Homo sapiens: one gene and its partner. The protein of the gene in region 2 purifies or fractionates together with the protein of the main gene of each other region. This does not show direct contact. Each region holds a gene or a part of one and is shown on either strand. Other genes may lie near its edges.

The links.
Region 1: the proteins of UBE2Q2 (region 2) and LETM1 purify together in Homo sapiens (affinity purification with mass spectrometry; one large-scale study listed by BioGRID and IntAct). This does not show direct contact.

Annotation. Positions count from the first base shown.
Region 1 is NC_000004.12:1,821,396-1,825,186, reverse strand, and holds part of LETM1 (mitochondrial proton/calcium exchanger protein precursor), read left to right. Parts: intron 1-1,411; coding exon 1,412-1,543; intron 1,544-2,055; coding exon 2,056-2,199; intron 2,200-2,874; coding exon 2,875-3,006; intron 3,007-3,791. UniProt on the Homo sapiens protein: Plays an important role in maintenance of mitochondrial morphology and in mediating either calcium or potassium/proton antiport. Mediates proton-dependent calcium efflux from mitochondrion.
Region 2 is NC_000015.10:75,846,284-75,850,074, reverse strand, and holds part of UBE2Q2 (ubiquitin-conjugating enzyme E2 Q2), read right to left. Parts: intron 1-3,791.

The sequences.
Region 1 (3,791 bases), on a different chromosome or scaffold from region 2:
TGGCATGGCACGGTCTGACTTTGGAGCCGCCCCTTCTCTTGGCCACGCCCTGTGCTGGTGCCTGGTTCCCAATGCCATCAAATTGAGTGGCTTGTAGGTCGGAAAGTGACAGCCCCAGCCACTCACTCTTACATGGAAAGGTTAAGGGGTGCAGGGCTCCAGCCGGTTTCCTCCCGGTGCCCTGGCACTGGCATGCCCTTGTTGGCAGTCATCCTCCTCCCGGGTTTTTCACACAACCTGCAAGTGTAGATGAAGGTGTGTGTACACACTTCTCCTCTCGACACAGACAGTATTTATGGCGTGATCCTGTGGCACCCCCTGCCTTCCACAGCCGCGTCTTCCATCGGATTCCCCAGCAGAGCCTTCTCTGTGTCTGGCATGGGTGCTGACCTCCCTAGCACTCTGCCCAGCCTTCTGGAGCTCCGTGGGGATATGGGCCACACACACAGGGGTGTCTGAGCAGGGGGGCAGGTGCTGTCCCTGCCCAGGCCCCTCGGCCCCCAGGGGAGTGTGGCGCATTGGGGGCCCGAGTGTCATGTGTTCACACTTTTCCTTCTCTACCCACCTCTCGGTGGTGCCTTTCTTCTCTTAGGGTTTGTTCTCATATTTTCTCTACCCACTTCTCCTCAGCGTTGCCTTTCTTCTCTTAGGGTTTGTTCTCATGTTTTGCCCCGTGTTCAGTTTGTCTCTAAACATTGTCACGGTCTTTCTTGCCCATTTGGAGATTGTCTTGGTGTTACTCAAGCAGCCAGCCCCGGAACCTGGCCTGTGCAGAGCCTGCAAGGGCCCGAGTGCTGACCGGCCTCAGTGACACTGCCTCTGCGGGCCCGTATATGTTGACCTGGGCTGGTCTTGTTTCTTTGTTTGAGACAGAGTCTTGCTCTGTCACACAGGCTGGAGTGCAGTGGCGCGATTTCGGCTTGAAACAACCTCCGCCTCCCTGGTTCAAGCAATTCTTGTGCCTCAGCCACCCAAGTAGCTGGGACTACAGGTGCACACCACTATACCTGGCTAATTTTTGTATTTTTAGTAGAGATGGGATCGCCATGTTGGCCAGGCTGGTCTCGAACTTCTGACCTCAGGTGATCCGCCCACCTCGGCCTCCCAAAGTGCTGGGATTACAGGCGTGAGCCACCGCGCCCGGCCCCTGGGGTGTTTTTAAGTGAAGAGTTGGTGCCCTGTTCTGAGGCCCTTGGGGTCCTCGCTGTGGGGGTTGCTGACCCCCAAGCCTCTCTGGTGTTTTGTTTACTAACGCCGTCATCGGGTCACGCAGCACAGCAACAAACAGACCTTGTAGAACTTGAGACACTGTCTTCTCTGAGAGCTATTCTGGTGATGAGATGGGCGGACCTGCTGTGGGGCCAGCAGGGTTGGGGGGCTGCCCATCTGCTGAACCTGGCCTTGGTTGCAGTGGCTGGACCTGCACCTGCATCAGGAGATCCCCACATCGCTGCTCATCCTGTCCCGGGCCATGTACCTCCCGGACACCCTCTCTCCAGCCGACCAGCTCAAGTCCACACTGCAGACCCTCCCAGAGATTGTGGTACGTGCTGTCGGAGACCCCTTTTACCTCATCTCTTCATAGGTGGCTCCGCTCTTCTGGGGTGGGGGGAGGTGTGCAAGCGCACTCATTCCTCAACCATGGGCGAGGAGCCTGCCTCCCACCCCCTCGCGAGTGCCCCCACCCAGCCACCTGTCCCCTTCCTTCCATCCCTCCTCACCAGCCCCTTGCCTGCCATCCCCCGTGTGGCACAGTTGCCAGTGGTCCCGACCTGGCCACGTGTTGGCTGCTGTGGATCTGGGCCGCGGCCCTTGGAGCTGTGTCAGCAGCGCCTATGCTCCTTCCCACATGTCAGGAGTCATCGGGCGAGCGCAGAGGGCGGCCCAGGGGCCTCCCAGCAATTGCGGGCAGCACCTCGGCAGTGCCTTCTGTCCTGTGTGTGTGAAGCCCAGGTGGTGACGGGGCAGGGGACACAGGACACAGGACAGAGGTGAGGGGCAGCAGGGGCCTCTGGTGGCTTCTGGGCTCACCCACAGATGTACCCTCTTCTGAAGGCAAAGGAAGCACAGGTGAAAGTGGCCGAGGTGGAGGGCGAGCAGGTGGACAACAAGGCCAAGCTGGAGGCCACGCTGCAGGAGGAGGCGGCCATCCAGCAGGAGCACCGTGAGAAGGAGCTGCAGAAGCGCTCGGAGGTGGCGGTAAGCGGTGGTCCTGCTCCGTGCCGCGTGGGGCTGTCCTGAGCCAGCCTCCCTAGAAACCCCCGCACGCCCACAGTCTTGGCCTCCCGCATGCTTGCCCTGCAGCTCTGTCCTGCATGTTTATTTCCTCCTGGAGTGGTCAGGGAGGCAGGGTGCCCGGGTGTGAGGGCTGCAACTCTGACATGGGGACTCCCCGATGGCCACAGTGGTGCTCATGGGAGATATACCTTAGCCGTCTCAGAGGGGCAAGCTTAGCATATGGCAGTGCCCACCCTCTCCTCAGGGACTTGCTGTGAGGGGCGCTGGCAGAGGAGCTGCAGGCTCCCCCAGCCTCTGGGCTCCTCTTCAACGCGGGCCCTGTGGTCCTCTTGGGTCACATGCATGGTGCCCACCCACAGGCTCAGCCTCCTGCTCTGCAAGTGACAGGGCAGCTTGGGGGAGTCTTGGGGAGACCAGAGATGGATAAGGTGCTCTAGCCTGTTCTGGAGAGGGCCCCAGGTGACCTGGCAGCTGCATGGAGCCTCCCTAGGGACCTTCTGTGGCAGGTGTGCTGCCCAATGTCACCTGCAGGCCTGCTCCCAGTGTGGCCTCTGCCATATGTTCTGAGCTTCGGGGAGCAAGAAGACTGCTTCTGTGTGATGGCGGGCGCTGGGCTGGTGTCGCCTTGCCTTTCAGAAGGATTTTGAGCCCGAACGTGTGGTAGCTGCTCCCCAAAGGCCGGGGACCGAGCCACAGCCAGAAATGCCTGACACAGTCCTGCAGTCAGAGACCTTGAAGGACACTGCCCCGGTGCTGGAGGGCTTGAAGGTAATGAGGCAGGTTCTGGGGCCCTGGAGGCTGAGGAGGGCATGGCCTGGCTTTGTGGACAGTTGTGGGGCAGGGATGGGGACAGGTTAGCTGGGGCATCTATAGCCCTCAGTGAGAGGAGATGGTGCAAGGGGTTGAGGATGAGGCCACTGGGCCCCTAGGAGGCTTGGTGGTTAGGAAAAGAGTGAGTCCGGCCGGGCTCCGCACTGTGCCTGGGTGCACAGCAGCTGACGCTGCCGTGAACTTAGCACCCTGGCCCACAGTGTGGCAGGTAGAGATGCCAGTCGGCAGGTTTCAGGGCCCTTTGCCAGCTTGCCCAGACAGTGAAGGGGTGTGGAAGCCAATGTGGCCCCTCAAGGTAGAGCCTCCTCCACAGGCCCAACCTGCTGTCACCTCCTGTGGGGTGATCTGGGCTTGGAGCATCTTCAGACTCCCCATGCGAGCCTGTGAGGTGCAGCCTCCAGGCGCCTGTGCTGCCTACCTGGGGCGCCTCCTGGTACCTTCCATCTTGAACTCGCGGGCTGAAGTGCAGTGGCGCCATCTCGGCTCAGTGCAGTCTCAGCCTCCCAGGTTCAAGCAACTCTTCTGCCTCAGCCTCCCAATATCTGGGAGTACAGGCGTGCACCACCAGACCCAGCAAATTTTTGTATTTTTAGTAGACAGGGGGTTTCACCATGTTAGCCAGGCTGGTCTCAAACCCCTGACCTCAAGTGATCTTCCCGCCTCAGCCTCCCAAAGTGCTAGGATTACAGGTGTGAGCCACCACACCCAGCCATAAAAAAAAA
Region 2 (3,791 bases):
ACATCTAAAATAATGACCAATATTTAAACCTATGTATTAATATTTTCAATCTTTCACATGCTTTAAGTTTTGTAATTTTGATAAGGTTAACTAAGCTTTATATCTATCTTGAAAAGATAAGTTTGCCTACTATTTCTCTTTAAAATAAATATGACCTATGGTATATCAGTTTTTAAACAGTGAATGGTGCTCAAAAATCCCAATACAAATTCAGGCAGTTTTCCCGTACATAGAATGTTTAAGTGCTTCTAGCACCACTCTTTTTCACCACAGTTATGAAAACACAGAACAATTATCTAAGCATCTAATTACTCAGGTCCTTTGTTCCTCATCCATTCTATTAGTTTTATAGTAATTCTAAGGCCTGTGAGAATGAAGTTGTCTGTGAAGCTACCATAAACATTACTGTAAGTGGACAAATTTCAAACAAGTTCATCACCACTACCATCCCCACCATAAAACTGTCTTAATGGAGGGAAACACAACTCAAGATTAACCAAACCAACCTCTTTACCTGTCACTGCTCAAGAAAAAGATTTTTTTGTCTTATTTAGAAGTAACTTTCTGTATCTATTTTTCTCCATAAATCCACTGAGACCATTGTGTGGCTCTATCTCAAGCACCAGCAACCAAAACTGGTTGACCAGAATGGTCAGTTTTTGTATCTTTCCAAATGTAGGACACAGCTATCTTCAGGGATTTCATCATTTTTTTAAAACTGATGCACAAACTTCTGGAAGGTTCAGAGATAACAGCAGTTGTAATTCTTCTGAAGGCCAGTTATGGGACACATTACTTTCATAGTTTGCTGTTCAATAAATGTGGGGTGGAGAACGAAGTAAATTGACAGAATTAGCATATAGTACCTTAATAAAATTCTAACTGCTCTGACAACAAAAGATACTTAAAATGCATACACATGGTTCCCTGCTAATCATTTTACAAATAAACAACCAAGTAGCTAACCTAGAGCCCACAAAAGCAGAGTAAAAATTCTAACACTTGTTGAAATAAAAATGTTCATATACCCATGATAAAAAGAAAATGCTTAAGTATTCAAACACAAGCAGCAAATTACAGCTACTGAGAACATCATTGTAAGCAAACTGAGGCACAGAAAAAGGTGCTGATGAGGATCTGAACCACCTAAGCTGCAGAAACCCACTGGGTGGTTTCCTAGGTTCCAAGTTGGGATTATCTTTCAGAATCTTCTAGAAGAGATCACATAACACTGTTACAAAGGATCTGGAAAAAGGGACCCCTGCTTTATCACTCTGGCTCTCCAGTCATGCTTGACATTTGGCAGTGACTATCTCCATTCAACTCAATTCCCCACCCCTCAACTAGCTGACATTTATCAAATACTACCCTTTTCCAGGTCTAAATATGTTTAACCAAATTAAAAAAAAAAAATCAAGATACTAAGGGATATACTATTCACAAAAGGGAAACCTAAGTCTTCTCTTCATATATCTGTTCCTTTCAAGGACAGGTATAAAAATGGGGATGAGGGAGCATAAATAACCACCAGGAATTTGACCCTATATTATAAATTGGTCAGATAAACGAAAACAATGATTCTTCTGGAATGAAAGTACCACTTAGGTGCTTAACATGACAGTTCTGATATTTCCAAATGCTCTTCCATGAATTCAATTTGGAAAGGTAATCTGTCCCAGGAGGGCAAACCAAAGAGAAAAGTCTTAGGCTCCTTAGTCCAGGTTTATTTCCTTTGTACAACTTTGACTGGACTACTTTTTAATCATAGTAAAGACTAGAAAAATGCAAGATGAAGTTAACAGCATTGCTTTATTTCCCACAAAAACCTGTTATAAAGCATTTTCAAAATAAAGTGTTATTCAGCCACAAATGACACCATCGCTTTTATATTTGTAGAACATAATATCATTGCCAAAGAGCTTTCCTCTATATGCTCTCTTGCAGTGCAAAAAAATATTATCTATAGTACACAGAAACACAGTAAAAGAAGTGACTTACTTAAGCTCCTAACTACTAAATAAAAGCTAAACTTCTCACTTCCTCCTAGATTCACAGCTCCAACATTTTTAAAATTTAGTATCTTGCTGTTGGGGGTAGGCACTTTTTGGCAATAATGAATAGAAATTTAATTAACCAATCAAAAACAAAGTCCCACTAAAAGCAGCCTAGCAAACAGCCACTTATACGCAGAAAGGGTAATCATTTATGCTCTACAAGTAATATAAAAAATGAAGTTTCATTTGTTTACTAGCTAATTTACTTCCTGGGGGAGATTTTTCATTCTAAAACAGTGATTTCCTACCAAGAATGCCCAGATGCCAAAAAGTCCATAAAAGGAGTAATGGAGTTGCCAAGTTATGTTAAATACTTCAAAACGACTAAAGCCATATACTAGCTCCCAATAAGGCTGCTTAAAACAAGCTGCTTTGCATTTCGGTGTGATTGTAACAACTAATTAGACGGCAATCAGGTTAGTTTACTGAAGATGGAAAAACTATACTTAAGTTTGTATAACAGGCAATCTTTCATATCATGGCTTCACAGAAAAGAATAAAAAGGACTCGAGGTTGAAAAAGAGCACTCTTTTCCCTTCATTATTTAAGATCAGGACAAATTTATAAAACAGGAAAAGAATTAGCTCAATTCCCTTGGCCTACAGAGTAAAACATCTACTCTGTTTTGGTCTTTTTCACTTCTTACACTCTCATATGAAGTCAATTTACAGACTTCCATCAAGCCCTTAGAGACCTTTTTGTACTATCCATGACAAGTTATTGATGTTATCTCTGCACTTTTGACAAATTCTTAGCAGTTAACTTACAAGGCAGTTAAGATTTTTGTTCAAATACAATACAGCTAGAATAGCGCTATATACTCAAATATTTATGAAGCATTTATTGAGTGGAAGATAAAAAGCACAAAGCATAATTATAAAATATTCTCCCCTGCCACCATAAAAAGAAAAATTTAAAGGCTTACAGAATACAGCATAAGAAAACATGACCAAAGCAAAAATAGTAAGGACTAAAGAAGGGAGGAAGGGGAAATAACAGCATGAACTAAATATGACCCAGAAGAGCCTTGACGGATGGTCAGGCATATAAAGACAAATGGGGTAAGGTTAAGGGGTGGAGGTCAGGGGCACATTCTACAGGGAGAAATACAGCTGATACAGAAACCTGAAAGGAAAAGCCAGCAGAGCACCTGTACAGGACTCTTCAGGAACTAGCATGCACGTGTGTAAAAAACAACTTAGTTTCTCAAACATTAGAGAAACTGCATAAGGATGTTTCTTGGTAAGTATAAAGAAAACAAGTCCTAGCATGTAGAATTCAAATATTTGAACTGTCTAAAGAGGAAAAGTTAAAGAATAAGTCAAACTCATTACCTTTTCCAGAGTTACAACTTTAGAGAATAACAAATCATCGATCAAACCAAATCATTTGAAATCCAACCCCATTTTTCCCTTGATCTTTCCCTTCTAAGCAAATGGTATCGACATGAACAAGCCATGTCATTTTATCAAAACAGTCATCCATGTTTAAAAGAGTCTTTACGGCCAGGAACGGTGGCTCACTCCTGTAATCCCAGCACTTTGGGAGCTTGAGGTGGAGTTCAAGACCAGCCTGGCCAACATGGTGAAACCCCGTCTCTACTAAAAACACAAAAATTAGCCGGGTGTGGCGGCGGAAACCTGTAATCCCAGCTACTCGGGAGGCGGTGGCAGCAGAATTGCTTGAACCTGGGAGGCGGAGGTTGCAGTGGGCCCAGGTCACACCACTGCACTCCAG